Linked DNA regions of Homo sapiens. The protein of the gene in region 4 purifies or fractionates together with the protein of the main gene of each other region. This does not show direct contact. Each region holds a gene or a part of one and is shown on either strand. Other genes may lie near its edges.

Evidence for each region. Proteins that work in one complex are often made in the same cells at the same time.
Region 1: the proteins of SLC16A7 (region 4) and CELSR2 purify together in Homo sapiens (affinity purification with mass spectrometry; one large-scale study listed by BioGRID and IntAct). This does not show direct contact.
Region 2: the proteins of SLC16A7 (region 4) and CELSR1 purify together in Homo sapiens (affinity purification with mass spectrometry; one large-scale study listed by BioGRID and IntAct). This does not show direct contact.
Region 3: the proteins of SLC16A7 (region 4) and TM9SF4 purify together in Homo sapiens (affinity purification with mass spectrometry; one large-scale study listed by BioGRID and IntAct). This does not show direct contact.

What each region holds. Positions count from the first base shown.
Region 1 is NC_000001.11:109,266,358-109,270,194, reverse strand, and holds part of CELSR2 (cadherin EGF LAG seven-pass G-type receptor 2 precursor), read right to left. Parts: intron 2,648-3,837; coding exon 2,553-2,647; intron 2,345-2,552; coding exon 2,135-2,344; intron 1,615-2,134; coding exon 1,431-1,614; intron 1,316-1,430; coding exon 1,187-1,315; intron 1,086-1,186; coding exon 905-1,085; intron 772-904; coding exon 604-771; intron 502-603; coding exon 375-501; intron 263-374; coding exon 62-262; intron 1-61. UniProt on the Homo sapiens protein: Receptor that may have an important role in cell/cell signaling during nervous system formation.
Region 2 is NC_000022.11:46,390,965-46,394,801, forward strand, and holds part of CELSR1 (cadherin EGF LAG seven-pass G-type receptor 1 isoform 1 precursor), read right to left. Parts: intron 3,299-3,837; coding exon 3,178-3,298; intron 853-3,177; coding exon 669-852; intron 324-668; coding exon 222-323; intron 112-221; coding exon of another isoform or gene 1-111. UniProt on the Homo sapiens protein: Receptor that may have an important role in cell/cell signaling during nervous system formation.
Region 3 is NC_000020.11:32,161,533-32,164,890, reverse strand, and holds part of TM9SF4 (transmembrane 9 superfamily member 4 isoform 1 precursor), read right to left. Parts: intron 1-3,358. UniProt on the Homo sapiens protein: Associates with proteins harboring glycine-rich transmembrane domains and ensures their efficient localization to the cell surface.
Region 4 is NC_000012.12:59,777,500-59,781,336, reverse strand, and holds part of SLC16A7 (monocarboxylate transporter 2), read right to left. Parts: intron 1,915-3,837; coding exon 1,658-1,914; 3' UTR 1-1,657. UniProt on the Homo sapiens protein: Proton-coupled monocarboxylate symporter. Catalyzes the rapid transport across the plasma membrane of monocarboxylates such as L-lactate, pyruvate and ketone bodies, acetoacetate, beta-hydroxybutyrate and acetate.

The DNA.
Region 1 (3,837 bases), on a different chromosome or scaffold from region 4:
GGGGGCTGGGGAGGCGGCCTGAGAAGGTGGGGACAGTTTCTGGGCAGTAGGAGCATCTTACAGGGAGGTCAGCCTGGTTGATTCCCAGGAGGAAGACCAGCTGAGCCAGGCCCAGGGCAGCTGTCAGGTTACGTCGGATGCCGTGTTGGTTGGAGCGCAGGATACGCAAGAGAGTGAGGAAGAAGAAGGTGAGCAGAAGGGCAGCCAAGGTGACACCTAGAGCCACGTATGTCAGTGTCTTCAGTGGCAGGATCTCCCCATTCTGCAGAGTAGGTGGCAGGGGGCCAGGGAATTAGGAAGGGCAGGACCTGAGCACCCAGCCCCGTGCCCTGGGTGCCCACCCACGGCTCTGCAGCTGCCCCTGTGGGCCCGACCTCCCGCCGAGAAACGTCCATGAGCACAGCGAAGCTCGTCATGTGGTTGCACTGGCAGCTGACGTGGCTCTCATTGCGGAAGACGACTTCACAGCCTCTGGCCGACCAGCCACCTGTGCCACTGACCCTGTGTGAGGAAGGCAGGGTCAGGGAGACAAGGAGGGTGAGGCATGCAGGGGCCTGGACTTTCAGCCCGAAGCCTGAGGGGGCGAGGGCAGTGCAGGCTCACAGGATTGAATGGTTCCAGAAGACACAGATGGGCTTGGTCCGCTCCTCTGTCTCCAGCAGGCGGAACTGCACCGTGACGGGTTTGTCCAGGGCCCGGGGCAGAAGCTCCTCATCATCATGGACGCTGATGCTCACCACGGGTGTGTTGATGATCGGGCGTTTGGGGACTCTGATGTGGGGCAGTCAGGTGCACAGTCACCACGGCAGTCACATGACTGGGGAGACGCCCCCGACCCCCTCCATGCCTCAGCACTCACCGCCCGACCCATACCCCTACCCACACCTGTCCCCTAGCTGCTGACCTCAAGCTGCGCTTGTCAGGGTCATAGTTATGAGGCAGTAGCCCGGCCAGGGTGCGGTAGATGATGACGCTGGCCACAGCCTCACCCTGGCTCAGCTCCGGGTGCCGTCGCTGTCGCCGTGCCAGCTCCTCTGGCTCCTGGGCCTCTCCGGGGCCTGCGGGCCTGACCACGGGGGGCGTCTCTGGGAGGGGACACTGTCACACTTAGCTGGGCCCTGCTCTCTGTGGAGTCTGCACAGACACTGGGGTCCAGCTCCCAACTCAATCCATGGCCACCACTGACCTCTGAAGACAGACTCAGGCAGAATGACTGTTGTCTCAAGGTCCGGGGGCTGCTCCCCACGCAGGGCCTCGTAGCGGGGCAGCTTGGCCCCAGCAAAGTTCCCTTTGTCCAAGCGCACTACGGAGATGACTAAGGAAGGGGATGGTCACAGATCGGACCTGTGAGGCAGGCAGGACCCCAGCACAGCCGCTCTTGTCGGGGACTCCCTCCACAAACCCCTCCCCAACCCAGGCACCAGCCTTACCAATGTTGGGCGTGACGATGGTGAAGGGGCTTAGGTAGGTGTGCCGCATGTTCTGGGCCAGGGCACTGGCGTAGGCCTCATAGTGCTGGAGCAGCCAGGCGGTGCCACCCTCTGTCTGCTGGATCAGCTCCCAGTGCCGCTTGTTGGCTGTGTCCAGGAGGGCGCTGCCCACCCGCAGCAGATTCTGGGGTGGGCAAGGTCACGGTGGGTGTGCTCACAACCCACACCTGACATCCCCACCATGGAGCCCCGGCCTGTGCCCGGGCCAGTCCCTGCTCCCCACCAGGCCCCTCCCTCTGTGCTCACTGTTGCCTCCCCTGAAATGCTCCTGGACCGCACTGCCCACTCAGGTCACTGGATGCTCTGCCCCTAAGCCCTCCTCCTCATTCTCTACATAAGAGCTTCCCAGCCCTGTGCCTGGACCCACACACATGTCCTGAGATACTGCTTCCTCCCAGCCCATGGTACCACAGGCAGGCCTCTGCTCTGGGTCAGACCATGCCCCAACACACATATGTTACTATGAGAAGGGTTGGGAAGAGGGCTGGGCCAGGGGTCACAGGGTTTCATGGAGGCCTCCTGCCAGCAGGGAGCTCCTTGTAGGTGGGATGGGAGGGCCCCCTCTGCCCCCCAGGTTGCCATGAGCAGGCTCACTCACCATGACCCCTATCTAACCAGCCAGCCCTGCATCCTCCAAGCCCCACCTCAGTGAAGTGCACGTCCTGTGTGGCAGACAGCCCAAAGCCCCGCTGGGTGCTCTCGTGGGCCAGCAGCCGCGTGGCCAGCTGGTAGGCCACCTTGACGTCGCTGCCGAAGTAGCCAGCTGTGTGCTGCGTGGCGTTGCGCAGGAGCAGGGCTAGCTGCTGGGAGCGCCCTGAGTCTAGGCCTGACTCATTCCGCTGTAGCCGCTCAGCCTAGACAGGACGGAGCGGAGGAGCAGGAGTGAGGGCAGGAACTCTGGAGCAAAAGGACCTCAGGAGGTGAGAGACGGCCTCTCCAGCTGGGAGCCCAGGAACACACAGGCTGGAATTCCAGAAGCCCCGTTCTCAAAGATGGGAGTGGGGGCAAGTGAGACTCAGGACGAAGGACAGGGAAAAGATGGAGATGAGGGGGTTCACTTACGAAGCCCTTCAGTTCTGAGAAGGTGATGGACGTGCAGTTGAAGAGGTTTGGGGGGAGCCACCCCCTGTGCTCATCACAGTGGCGCACAGCAGTCCCTGGGGGAAGGAAGCCAAAAGGGCCGGCCTCAGGGAGACACACAGGAAGCCCCTGAGACTGGCTGAGAGGTTCTGCTGGAGGCCAGCACCTCATGGGCCGGGGACAGTAACTAGCAAACAAGGGCCCTGGTGAAACAGGAAGACAGGTATGTAGAACACCAGGGCCAAAAATCTCCGCAAGATCAGTCCACACATGGGCTCTAGGGGAACAGGGCATACGACCTCCTTGAGCCCCCATCCTGCCTGTCTCCAGCCACCACTTTGTGCTCTCCGCCACTTCCTGCCTATGAACCTGCTCATTGCCAGTCCAGGACCAGCGCCAGCCCCCATCCTGGGCTGGGTGTCCTGGGTCAGCAGCCAACACCCCCTACTCCCCAGACTGTCTGCCTTTGTGGTGGCGTAACTCCAGGACTCGGTGGTGAGCTGACGATTGGAACCCTGCATGATTCATCTTTGAATCTCTAGCACAGCCCTATGCCAAGCACAGTGCAGGTTTTTCAGCATTTTTGTTAAGAGTCCAAGATGTGGGCTGGGCACGGTGGCTCACGCCTGTAATCTCGGCACTTTGGGAGGCCGAGGCGGGCTGATCACAAGGTCAAGAGATCGAGACCATCCTGGCCAACATGGTGAAACCCTGTCTCTACTAAAAAAATATAAAAAATTAGCTGGGCATGGTAGCACACGCCTGTAGTACCAGCTACTCGGAAGGCTGAGGTAGGAGAATCGCTTGAACCTGTGAGGTGGAGGTTGCAGAGAGCCGAGATCATGCCACTGCATTGTAGCCTGATGACAGAGCGAGACTCCGTCTCAAAAAAAAAAAAAAAAAGTCCAAAATGTGGTGGGGTGCAGTGGCTCACGCCTGTAATCCCAGCACTTTGGGAGGCCGAGGCAGGCGGATCATGAGGTCAGGAGTTCGAGACCAGACTGGCCAACATGGTGAAACCCTGTCTCTACTAAAAATACAAAAAAAAAAAAAAAAAAAAAAAAATTAGCCAGGTGTGGTGGCGGCCAGAGGCTTAGGCAGGAAAATTGCTTGAACCTGGGAGGCAGAGGTTGCAGCGAGCGGAGATCACGCCACTGCACACCAGCCTGGGTGACAGTGACAGACTCTGTCCCAGAAAAAAAACCAAACCAAAACAAAACAAAACAGTCCAAGATGTAGGCACACCTGGGCAACATGGGGAAGGGGG
Region 2 (3,837 bases), on a different chromosome or scaffold from region 4:
GGCGGGCGTCCCCACACGCGCTGCACTGTTCATGTTTCTGTTGCGCCCTCTGCCTGCTTTGTGTATTTCCTGGTAGGGAAAAGGCGATCGGATTTCTCCCCAGCACTTTGCCTGCGGATATTTTTTCAACACGAAACATTCCATGAGTCCCCACATCTCGACTGGCTCCTCCCACAAGGACGCCTGCCTCAGTTCCCTACACACAGGCCACGGCGACTCACCAACGGATCCCTTAGGGCATGGCACCGCAGCCGGCTGCCCGAACTTGGTCTGTGGCCACCAGATGCCGGCCTCAAATGCTTTGGGACAGCCATTGTAGATCACTGGGGTAGAGAAGAGAGAAGTCTGCTCAGCGGGGCACGCCACACCCACGACCACAAACAGGCACCACTGTCTGCATGCGCCTCCCTGCAGGAGGCCCTGCTCCCACCAAGAACCGAACCCTAGCATCTCCCCTGCCCCCATCCATGTCAGAGCTGGAGAGGGGTGACCAGGCTCTGACCCACACCCCCTCACGCAGAACCAGGTTTCTAGAAGGTCAAGAGAACTCAGAACACGAGGGAGCCCAGGGTCCCCCAAACACCCAGCGTGCATGCACACACGTGCACGCCAGTGCAGCAGCCTGTCCCCGCGCTGTAACCTGCAGGGTGTCGAGGGGCAACGCGGACCTTCACAGCCGAGCGTGGTGACCTCGGCAAACGGGTTGTCGCAGCGGTTGCACTGGCGGCCGATGACGCCGGGCTTGCAGGCACACTGCCCGGTGGCCATGTCGCAAGTGCGGCTGTGGGAGCCATGGGGGAAGCAGTCGCAGGGCAGACAGGTGTCCTGGGCTAGGAGCTTGTAGTAATTCTCCTGCAAAAGCCAGAGGCAGGGCCTGTGACTTCAGATGCCCGGGAGAGGCCCTACCTTGCAGCGTGTTTCCCGAGCGACGTCCAGACTCCCACCCGGGTGTGTGTGTTGGCCGCCAGCCATCCCACCCCTCATGGCTACCCTCTGCCCACATCCCACACCCAACGGGGGCTGCCTCCCAAGGCCCCACAAGGCCGGACCCAGGAGAGCAGTTCTTCCGGGAAGCACGCCCTCCCTCATGTCTTAACAAGTCTCAACAGTGGGCACCTTCGTATTTGTCCTAAAAAGAATCAGAGATCCAAATGGAGGCTTACGTATGGGGATAGCCCTTGGGCGTTTTTTTAAAGTTGTTTTGAAAAATTAGAAGCCACCTGAACGTCCACCATTGGGTGGGTCAGGGTGACAATCAAGAGCTTGTACTTCGGGTTCAGAAAGTCCTGGGTTCATGCCTGACCCTTGCCGTTTACCAGCTACATTGCCTGGGCTGGTCACCGGGACTCCCCAGGCCCAAGTAGCACCCCCTCAACCCCGCCCCGGAAAACGGGGCAGGCTGTGACCAGGCTGTGACTTGGGCAGACTCGTGAGCAACGTTCAGACCTGTGTGTCAGGTGGGGACTCCGACTGTGTGTAAAATGACAGTGAACGACAGGCCCAGAAGAGATGCTAAAACACTAACAATCACAGCTGGGAGGCGCATGGGGTGACTGCGATCTTTATGGGTTTTTATTACATTTTGTATAACTTTGTTTTTTTATTTTTTTGAGATGGGGTCTCACTGTGTTGCCCAGTCTGGAGTGCAGTGGTGCAGTCACAGCTCACTGCAGCCTCAACCTCCAGGGCTCAAGTGATCCTCCCACCTCAGCCTCCTGAGTAGCTGGGATCACAGGCAAGCATCAGCACGCTCAGCTAATGTTTTTATTTTTTGTAGAAATGGGAGTCTCACTATGTTGCCCAGGCTGGTCTTGAACTCCTGGGCTCAAGTAATCCCTCCTGCCTCGGCCTCCAGAGTAGCTGTGATTACAGGCATGAGCCACCACGCCCTGCCTATAACTTTGGATGAGAAAAAAATCGTAGGCAAGTTTTCGCCAATGCACTCCCCATGTTCTCTCTGCTCTGCCACCCACTATGCCACCACCGCCATCTGGTGACGTGTGGACCGACCCTGACCCAGGAGAGCTGTTTAATTTGAGCCTTTCAGGACACAAGTCCCATTTGCTGTTGGAACCACCGCAGGCACTGGGGGGGGACACTACTGACATCACGAGATGGCATCCAAGGGTGCCCTGGTACCAGCTTCCCTCCTAGGGCCAGCCGCATCTGCAGGAAGCTCACGTCCCTCGCCCAGGCTCCTGTTACCCTCAGACCTAACATTTGGGTTTCAAGTCACTGTGAGCGCCATGGCCGTGGTGTACACGAAGATCCTGAAGGAGGTGATGTATCCTGAGAGGGCTGGGGAGGGGTCCCTAGAGTCTGCACTGAGAACGCGTGTGCATTTCTGGAGACACGAGATGTGAGCTCCGTGCTGCATGCAGGTTAGGACTGACCGCCCTGGACAGGCGTGGGGCATAACGCACTTAGTGACACTTTCTATTTTAAAACTGCTGTCATCATGGGACACCAGCTTGGTAAAGACCAGGAAAATGGCCAGGCACGGTGGCTCACGCCTGTAATCCCAGCACTCTGGGAGGCTGAGGCGGGCGGATCACCTGAGGTCAGGAGTTCAAGACCAGCCTGGCCAACATGGTGAAATCCTGTCTCTACTAAAAATACAAAAATTAGCTGGGCATGGTGGTGGGCGCCTATAATCCCAGCTACTCAGGAGGCTGAGGCAGAAGAATTGCTGGAACCCGGGAGGCGGAGGCTGCAGTGAGCCGAGATCGCACCACTGCACTCCAGCCTGGGCGACACAGCGAGACTCTGTCTCAAAAAAAAAAAAAAAAAGACCAGGAAAATGGCCAACCAGGAGGCCAGGAGGGCCGGGGTGGTGCCATAGATGAGCCAGCCCTCAGAAACGGGTGGGCTTCCCACAGCCATGGGCAGTAGGCCGGGAGGAGGCAGGGATTCCTGTTCCACGGGCGGGGGCTGGCAGGGCTGAACCCGTAGTTTACACGTGGAAAGCAGCCATGGAGTATTCACAGAGCACGGGGGAGCAGCAAGGAAACCAAAAACCACATCTGTACACAAATGTGATGTGAGTGGGCACAGGTGTGTGTGCAGGGGTGTGAGTGTGTACCGACAGGGTATGTGAAGGCGTGTGTGTATTTAGGGGCAGCTGTGCATGTGTGTGAGCAAACACAGCATGCAGGGATCATGGGGGCGGGGCCTCACCTTGCATTGGCACTGGCCGTTGGTCTTATTACAGTCGGGATCAAAGCCTTTGCTGACGGCACAGTGGCAGGGTCCACAGACGGGGTTCCCCCACCAGCCTCTGGGGCACGGAAGGTCGAGTCTGTGGGGAAAATAAGAGGGCAGCTGGAAGGTTTATGTAACTGTGCTTTCTGGAATGAGAAGAGGCCTGCAGGCAGCATGGAGATGGTTGCCCAGGAGGCCTGGCTGGGTCCAGCTCTGGGAGCTTCCCCTTCCACGTTACATGGCCTCAGTCTCCCCTCTACCGGCTCCCAACCTCACCCCCCACCCACAGATCCACCATGCCCAAAGCGACTGGGATGACATCTCTGTCCACCGTGTGCCCCACGTCCACATGATGCCTGACTCATTGGGGCTTAATGACAATGAACCCCCACTGCAAGGCTGGCCTTTCACGATGCAGCCCCAGGCAGACTGAGCTCAGCTGCCTGGCACAACTTCTCAAAGTGGTCTTGGGGTGAATGCCAGCATGAGATGCCCGCAGGAAGCTCCTAAACAGGGAGTTTTGTAGCTTTTGTTGTCCCCCAGGTCCCCTGGCCCCCAGACCCACAGATGCTCAGGGCAGCCATGCCCTGGTGTAGCATGCCCCTTAGGACGGCGGCATGCGCCCGTGCACTCGGA
Region 3 (3,358 bases), on a different chromosome or scaffold from region 4:
CATTCATTCCTCTCTTCCCCAGAATGCTTGTCACTTTTGTTAGCATCTCACAGAGATTTTGATCTTGGAGCATTTTGGACTCCTTTTTAACTGGGGTAGAGTTTAGAGGCTGGGCAGAGATGCTGGGGATCTGTGTTATTTACAAAGGGAACTAATGTGGAACCTTGGTATCAAGATATGCCCAGGGCCTGAGTAGGGCCTGTCCCAGGACTCACAGGCAGACACATGGTCACAGAATGCCAGTAGCCCAGAAGAAAACAGTAAAGAAACAAAGAAAACAAAATAGGTCACCATTTGAAGCCCTCTCCTAAGCCTAAGGGGTGAAGGCCATGTTTTCAGGCTCAGCCCCGCATCTCTCCCCTAACCCCTTTTCTTTAAAGGGACAGGGTCTCCCTCTATTACCCAGACTAGAGCACAGTGGCATGATCACAGCTCACTACAGCCTCACCCTCCTGGGCTCAAGGGATCCTCCTGCCTCAGCCTCCCAAGTAGCTCAGACTATAGGTGTGTGCCACCACACCCAGCTAATATTTTTTCTAGCAATGGTGTCTTGCTCTATTGCCCAGGCTGGTCTCAGACACTTGGACTTAAGTTATCCTCCCACCTCTGAAAACGCTAGGATTATAGGTGTGAACCATATGCACCCAGCCTCCATCTCTTGTTATATGCATTCTTGTGGCTGGTGGTCGGGGGAGGGGTGGGGGAGGGACAAGGAGCAGAACCGTGGTAAAAGGAGGCAAGGGACGAGGCAAAGAGGCAGAGCCAGAAAGTTCCTCATTTTATACATAAGGCATTGGGGCTGGAGGAAGAGATTTTTTGAGCAGAGCAAGAAGACTGGAGCAGAAGGGAGGAAGGACAAGAGGCTGTGATGTGATCTCTAGTTTTGTTTAACCGTGTTCCTTGTCTTCCATATTCCAGATGTTTTGAGGAACACTCAAAACACCTGGTCCTGTTGGGGCCATCAATCCTAGCACAAAATAGGCCAGGTGCGGTGGCTCACGCCTGTAATCCCAGCACTTTGGGAGGCTGAGGCAGACGGATCACATGAGGTCAGGAGTTCAAGACCAGCCTGGCCAACATGGAGAAACCCTGTCTCTGCTAAAAACACAAAATTAGCCGGGCGTGGTGGTGTGCACCTGTAACCCCAGCTACTCAGGAGGCAGAGGCAGGAGAATCGCTGGAACCCGGGAGGCAGAGGCTGCAGCGAGCCAAGATCGCACCACTGCACTCCAGCCTGGGCAACAGAGCGAGTCTCCATCTCAAAAAAAAAAAAAAAAAAAAAAATTCCTAGCACAAGACCTAAGCCAGTCTGTCTGAATATGTGATGCTATTGGACCTGGAAAACAGTGAGCACTGGGCATGTCACCCGAGCAGAGCAGCGTGTCTTCACTGGCTGACGTATCATGGTAGACGAAAGACAGTCTTTTAGCTCTAGGGCTGCAAAGCTGGAAAGAGTAGACTCTAGGGCTGCCACTGGCCATCTTTCTACTTTGTGAAAAGATCTTGCCTGCAGACTGAGGCCAAAAAAAGATACACAGGGCTAAGGCGTGGGCACAGAGCCCTGGTATGTATGTGTACATACATACATACATACATATATATATATATATATATATATATATTTTTTTTTTTTTTTTTTTTTTTTGAGATGGAGTCTTGCTCTGTCACCCAGGCTAGAGTGCAGTGGCACGATCTTGGCTCACTGCAACCTCTGCCTCCAGGGTTCAAGCGATTCCCTTGCCTCAGCCTCCTGAGTAGCTGGGACTACAGACGTGCACCACCACGCCCGGCTAATTTTTTGTATCTCAGTAGAGACAGGGTTTCACCATGTTGGCCAGGATGGACTCGATCTCTTGACCCTGTGATCCACCCTCCTCGGCCTCCCGAAGTGCTGGGATTGAGCCCTGATATTTTTGAGACTCTGGATCTAAGCATGGTTGAGGCTAGAACTCCAATTTCTTAGTCTTTCCAGTTATATAAGCAAATACATTCTTTTTGCTTAAGCTACTTTTTTTCCCTTTTTTTTTGCTTAAGCTACTTTGATAGAGTTTTAGTCACTTGCCACTTATGAGAGTTATGATTAATATGGGCTATAGAGGAGGGAGATTAGATTTGTTCTAGATGATCCCAGAATTAAGACTAAGGTCTAAAGATGGAAGTCACAGCAAGGGAGACTGCAGTGTGAATCAAGACCTTGATAATGACAGGAGCTGTCCAGAAAGAATGGGAATGTTAGGAGGGAGTGTCTTCTCTGTTGCTGGATGTAGTAGAGCAGGGGTCTGCAATCTTTTACTTAGAGGGCCAGATTGTAAATATTTTAGTTTCTGCAGGCCATATGGTCCCTGTCGCAACTACTCAACTCTGCCATTGTAGTGTGAAAGCAGCCATGGACAGATATGTTAATGAATGACCATGGCTGTGTTCCAATAAAAATTTATAGAAACAGGCCTGCTGGCCCACGCGGGCTGCAGTTTGCTGACCCCTGAGCTAGAGAATCATCTGTTGAGACTGTTAGAGAAGAGGGGCACAGTCACCAGACTGGAGGTAGGGGTACAGCACTACACTAAATGATCCTTCCAGTCTTTTCCAACTTGACTGTTTTTGGGAAACGGCATTCCCAGCTTCGATCAACTGACCTACAACTCTATTTTGCAAATACGCCTGACTGCCACAGAGGACTGCTTGCTTCTGGGCTCTGGAGACCCAAAGTACAGCAGGTCAGAGTAAGTCTTGAGTATTAGTTTTGGAGGTGAGGGGCCCAACAGGGCTCCTCCAAATTCCTCTCAATGGCTCATCTGGTTTGTGTATCATGAATGAATCTAGTAAAACTGTCGTGGGGACATCTGTATTCTTGCCCACGTCTCTCTCTCGGGACAATGAGCTCTGTGAGTTGCCCTAGTCAGGTAAGCCTGGCTCCCTCTTATTATTGGGCCACACTTTACCTATGTGGGGTCACAGAGTTAGGAGGGCTCCGAGGTGCCTGTGAAAAACTTTCCCATCCTCTCCTTACTCTGCAGGATTGAACAGTACTTGCGTGAAGAAGAGAACACCTGCAGAGACAGGATACCTGCAGCCCTAAATTTGGGTTCTACTATTTAGACTATTTCAGCATTTTGTGCTTTTATCTTTATTAACTCCTTTCTACTTTTCTTCTTTCATGTTACTCTTATCTTTTCCTTTTTCTCAAGGTGTTATTAGTCCCTCTTATTTCCTGTGAAGAGCACTGCAGGTGACATATTGCTTTCAAGTCCTGCTTTGGCTATGGCTATACCTCGTAAGTTTTACAAGCATTATTCACATTGTCACGTATCCTGATGGCCTTTGTCTCCCAAACATACAGAATACAGATTCTTTCTTT
Region 4 (3,837 bases):
CTTAAGAGTGACACTACTTTGTCAAGCACTAAATACTTTTTAAATTAATCATGTTAAACTTCAGATTTATAGATATAAATATTGTATTTATAACTTTAGTCATAATGTACAATTTCTTTCTTGTTTAAAAGTACTTTCTCACTCAAAATGGTATTTATAGTTTAAAAAGAATATGCCTCTGTATTCAGGAGTGATTCAAATTCCCAGATGTTTTCACATAGTTATGAAAATGGGAAAGTGCTGAATTAAACTGGGCTGCAATATTTCAAGTTTTTTGCTATCAGGTTATAAACTATACCTACGATTGCAAGTCATACAGTGCCTCTATTTCTAGAAGGCTTTTAAAGTTTCCTGGCTTAGTTATGTCCAAAGGCAGCAGGAAGTCTCATCAGTAGAGGGCAGAATTTTCAAGTGCTGCCATTCTTATCCCAGGAGGCATTTCCAGTGGTTGAGCACAAGGCCTGTTTGTAGTTTGCTTTTGCTCTTGCATTTTGTGGAAGGGAAGGAACTGAGAGAGCTTAGAGGGTTCATTAAAACCACCCCTCACTCTCTTAGTCGTAGTCAGATGGAGTATTCATAACAGTAACCTCCAATTACCACTATGTGTTGGGAAAAATTAGAATTCGGTCTACTTACAATCCTGCCAACTAGGATTTTACTTTGATATTTCAGTATAACAGTGAATCTGGATTGATGCCTGATTAAAATAAAATCCCTGATTATTACTTTCTGGATTACGAACTAAAATCCCTGTAAAATCAATGGATGTGACTCATTGTTAAGAGTCATGCAGACTTTTACATATTAGGTAAGAATTCTAAAAATTATTTGAGGGTTCTATTCTCTAGCACCAGGTACTAATGCTCCCTACTCAAAAAAAATCATGTGCATGGATTAATCAAGTCTAACAGTGCTCAGATTTAATGGTTTAACATTGATTTTCTTTTCTTTGTCAAACTTATATATGCAAATATTTTTATAGTAGTCAGATGTTATTTTTGAATAAGGATCACCCTCATTTTTACCCATGTGCTTATCTTTAAAACCAACATTGTAAAGTAGCACGCAGACATATGTTTCTTTTATCTTCATGGATTATTTTTACCTTAAAAATAAATTATCATTTTTTTTTTTGAATTTGGGTTTTATTCTCCAGATACTCTGTGTACATGTGGGTAAGTATGTGGGAGTATGTGTGTTTGTGTGTAAGAGGGGATAATTAATTGTCTCTCAACTCTATCTCATACTTTAATATCAAATAAAAAATGAAATGTATAAAGGGTCACTTTGTAGGATTAGGCATCCTCCTTCTACCTACTTAAACCAGGGGTTTGGGATTCAGAATTCTCCATATAACCAAGACCGAAAGTCACTGGAAGACTTTAAAATTAGTATTTTAACCACCACACCCAGAGTCAGGTATGGAAATAAACCTATAGCATGGATTCTTTCTATGCATAATCTCAAAATTTAACTACCCAAATAAGTAAGTTTTTAAAAACTAATTTAAAATTTGCCATTGAGGAAAATATCACCTCCATCCTTAATTGTGACTCCTCATTTCAGCTAAAACCTTTTCTAATACTTTAAAAAAACAAAATGAAAAACAAACTCCTAGATAAAGTCATAAACACTGAAATCAGAGATGTGATTCTTGTTAAATGTTAGTTTCTCTTTCTGAGGTTACACTCTGTGCATTTGAAACTTTGACGTTAACATCTTCCGAATGTTTAGATTTGCTCAAGGGTTCAGATTCTCTGGTCTTCTGCCTTGCATTTTCCTCCTTCCTTTCCTTTGCAAGCAATCTATAGTTGATAGCATTGCCAATGAGCAGCCACACGCTTGCTGCTACCACAATAGCCCCACAGGACATGTACATGTATTTATATTCTCCAGTTAAATCCACCAATTTACCTAGAAGACAAAGAACATCTTTTAAGTTGGCATAATAAAACAGTCATATAATGATAAAAATTCAAATAAATTATTCTTCAAAGTATATTCCTCTTATTTAAATTAATGTCAAATAAGACTTTAAAAATAAAAAAATCTAGATTATGACTTCTACATATGCTTAGTAAAGGTATGCAGAGACACTTACAGTATTATATTACTAGTACATTAAATTTACTAAAAATTATTTCTCTCAGTAAAATATACAAACAAGACAAACTAGGCATTTTTTGTGTGTATATATTAATACATACATGAGTGAGGTATATTTTTATATCTATACATGTGAATATAGATATCTCTATTTACAGCACACGTTAGGATTGCTTCACCCTTTCCATGCTTCCTTTTCTCTTCAATAGAGAAAAATTACTTTCTTTAGGAGAAACCCAAAGGCTTTTACATGGTTCCTAACAGTGTCTAATATTTACTAAGTGCTTTCTCTATGCCCCATACTAGCCTAAGAATTTTATCTGTAATAGCTCACTTGATCCTTACAAGGAGTACTGTGAAGTAATCTGGGCATGGTTATGTAGCTAGTTAGTGGTAGAATCTAGACTCTTAACTGAGGTCTGTCTGTACTCATTCTTAACTACTCTGCAGAATGGCTTCACCTAACCTGTTGTTTAAGTGCCATGTCACTATTTGAGCTAATCCTAGTTTTTCACTTTATCTGAGTCTAAATTATTAAGGTGAAACTAATCAGTAAAAAAACTATTCCACTTGATTATTGAGACCATTTAAAATCTAGCCTGGTGCCATTTAATATGAAGGTTAATTGACTTTTAAAATTTTGTCAGCTTATATTTAGTTTTGTCTCTTGCTTATGCAGGCATCTAATTCTTCGTAATTATTAACAGCAGCAAAATTTAGTGTATACAAATCTATATAAATTAGCATATGCATTCCAAGTGATTCTGATATACAACTTTCAAACCAGTCTGTTTAGTCAGAATCCATAGCATTCTCCCTAGAATCTAGTCAGTGGCTCAACATTAAATTTGGCTACTTGTAATATATTACCTATTTAAACAAAATTTTCTGTTTTAATCAGGTAGATGGTATAATGGGTTTATTTAAGTAAGCATGACATAGTCATAAACATAACAAAAATGGCATAATTTTAATTTGCCTTCTTAACTTGAGTCAAATATTTCTATTTCTACAATGATTATTATACTTCTAAATATAAAAGCATTAGGTCCATGGCCCATCAGAGTTAATACCACTTTGGGCTGCCACATCAGCATACTTTCTAAATGTTTTAAGAATTTTTTATTGCGGCACTATTCACAATAGCAAAGACTTGGAACCAACCCAAATGTCCAACAATGATAGATTGGATTAAGAAAATGGGGCACATATACACCATGGAATACTATGCAGCCATAAAAAATGATGAGTTCATGTCCTCTGTAGGGACATGGATGAAACTGGAAATCATCATTCTCAGTAAACTATCGCAAGAACAAAAAACCAAACACTGCATATTCTCACTCATAGGTGGGAATTGAACAATGAGAACACATGGACACAGGAAGGGGAACATCACACTCTGGGGACTGTTGTGGGGTGGGGGGAGGGGGAGGGATAGCTTTAGGAGATATACCTAATGCTAAATGACGAGTTAATGGGTACAGCACACCAGCATGGCACATGCATACATATGTAACTAACCTGCACATTGTGCACATATACCCTAAAACTTAAAGTCTAATAATAATAAAATAAAAAATAATAAAAGAAATATTTTAAGGATTAAATAATAATTAGCCTAATACCTCTAATAAGAAAAAAAAAAGAATTTTTTAGCATCATCAAGAAACCAGATATGCTTTCCAGAACTAAAGCTTCAATTCTTTCTGAGAGGAGCAGTGAAAGTTC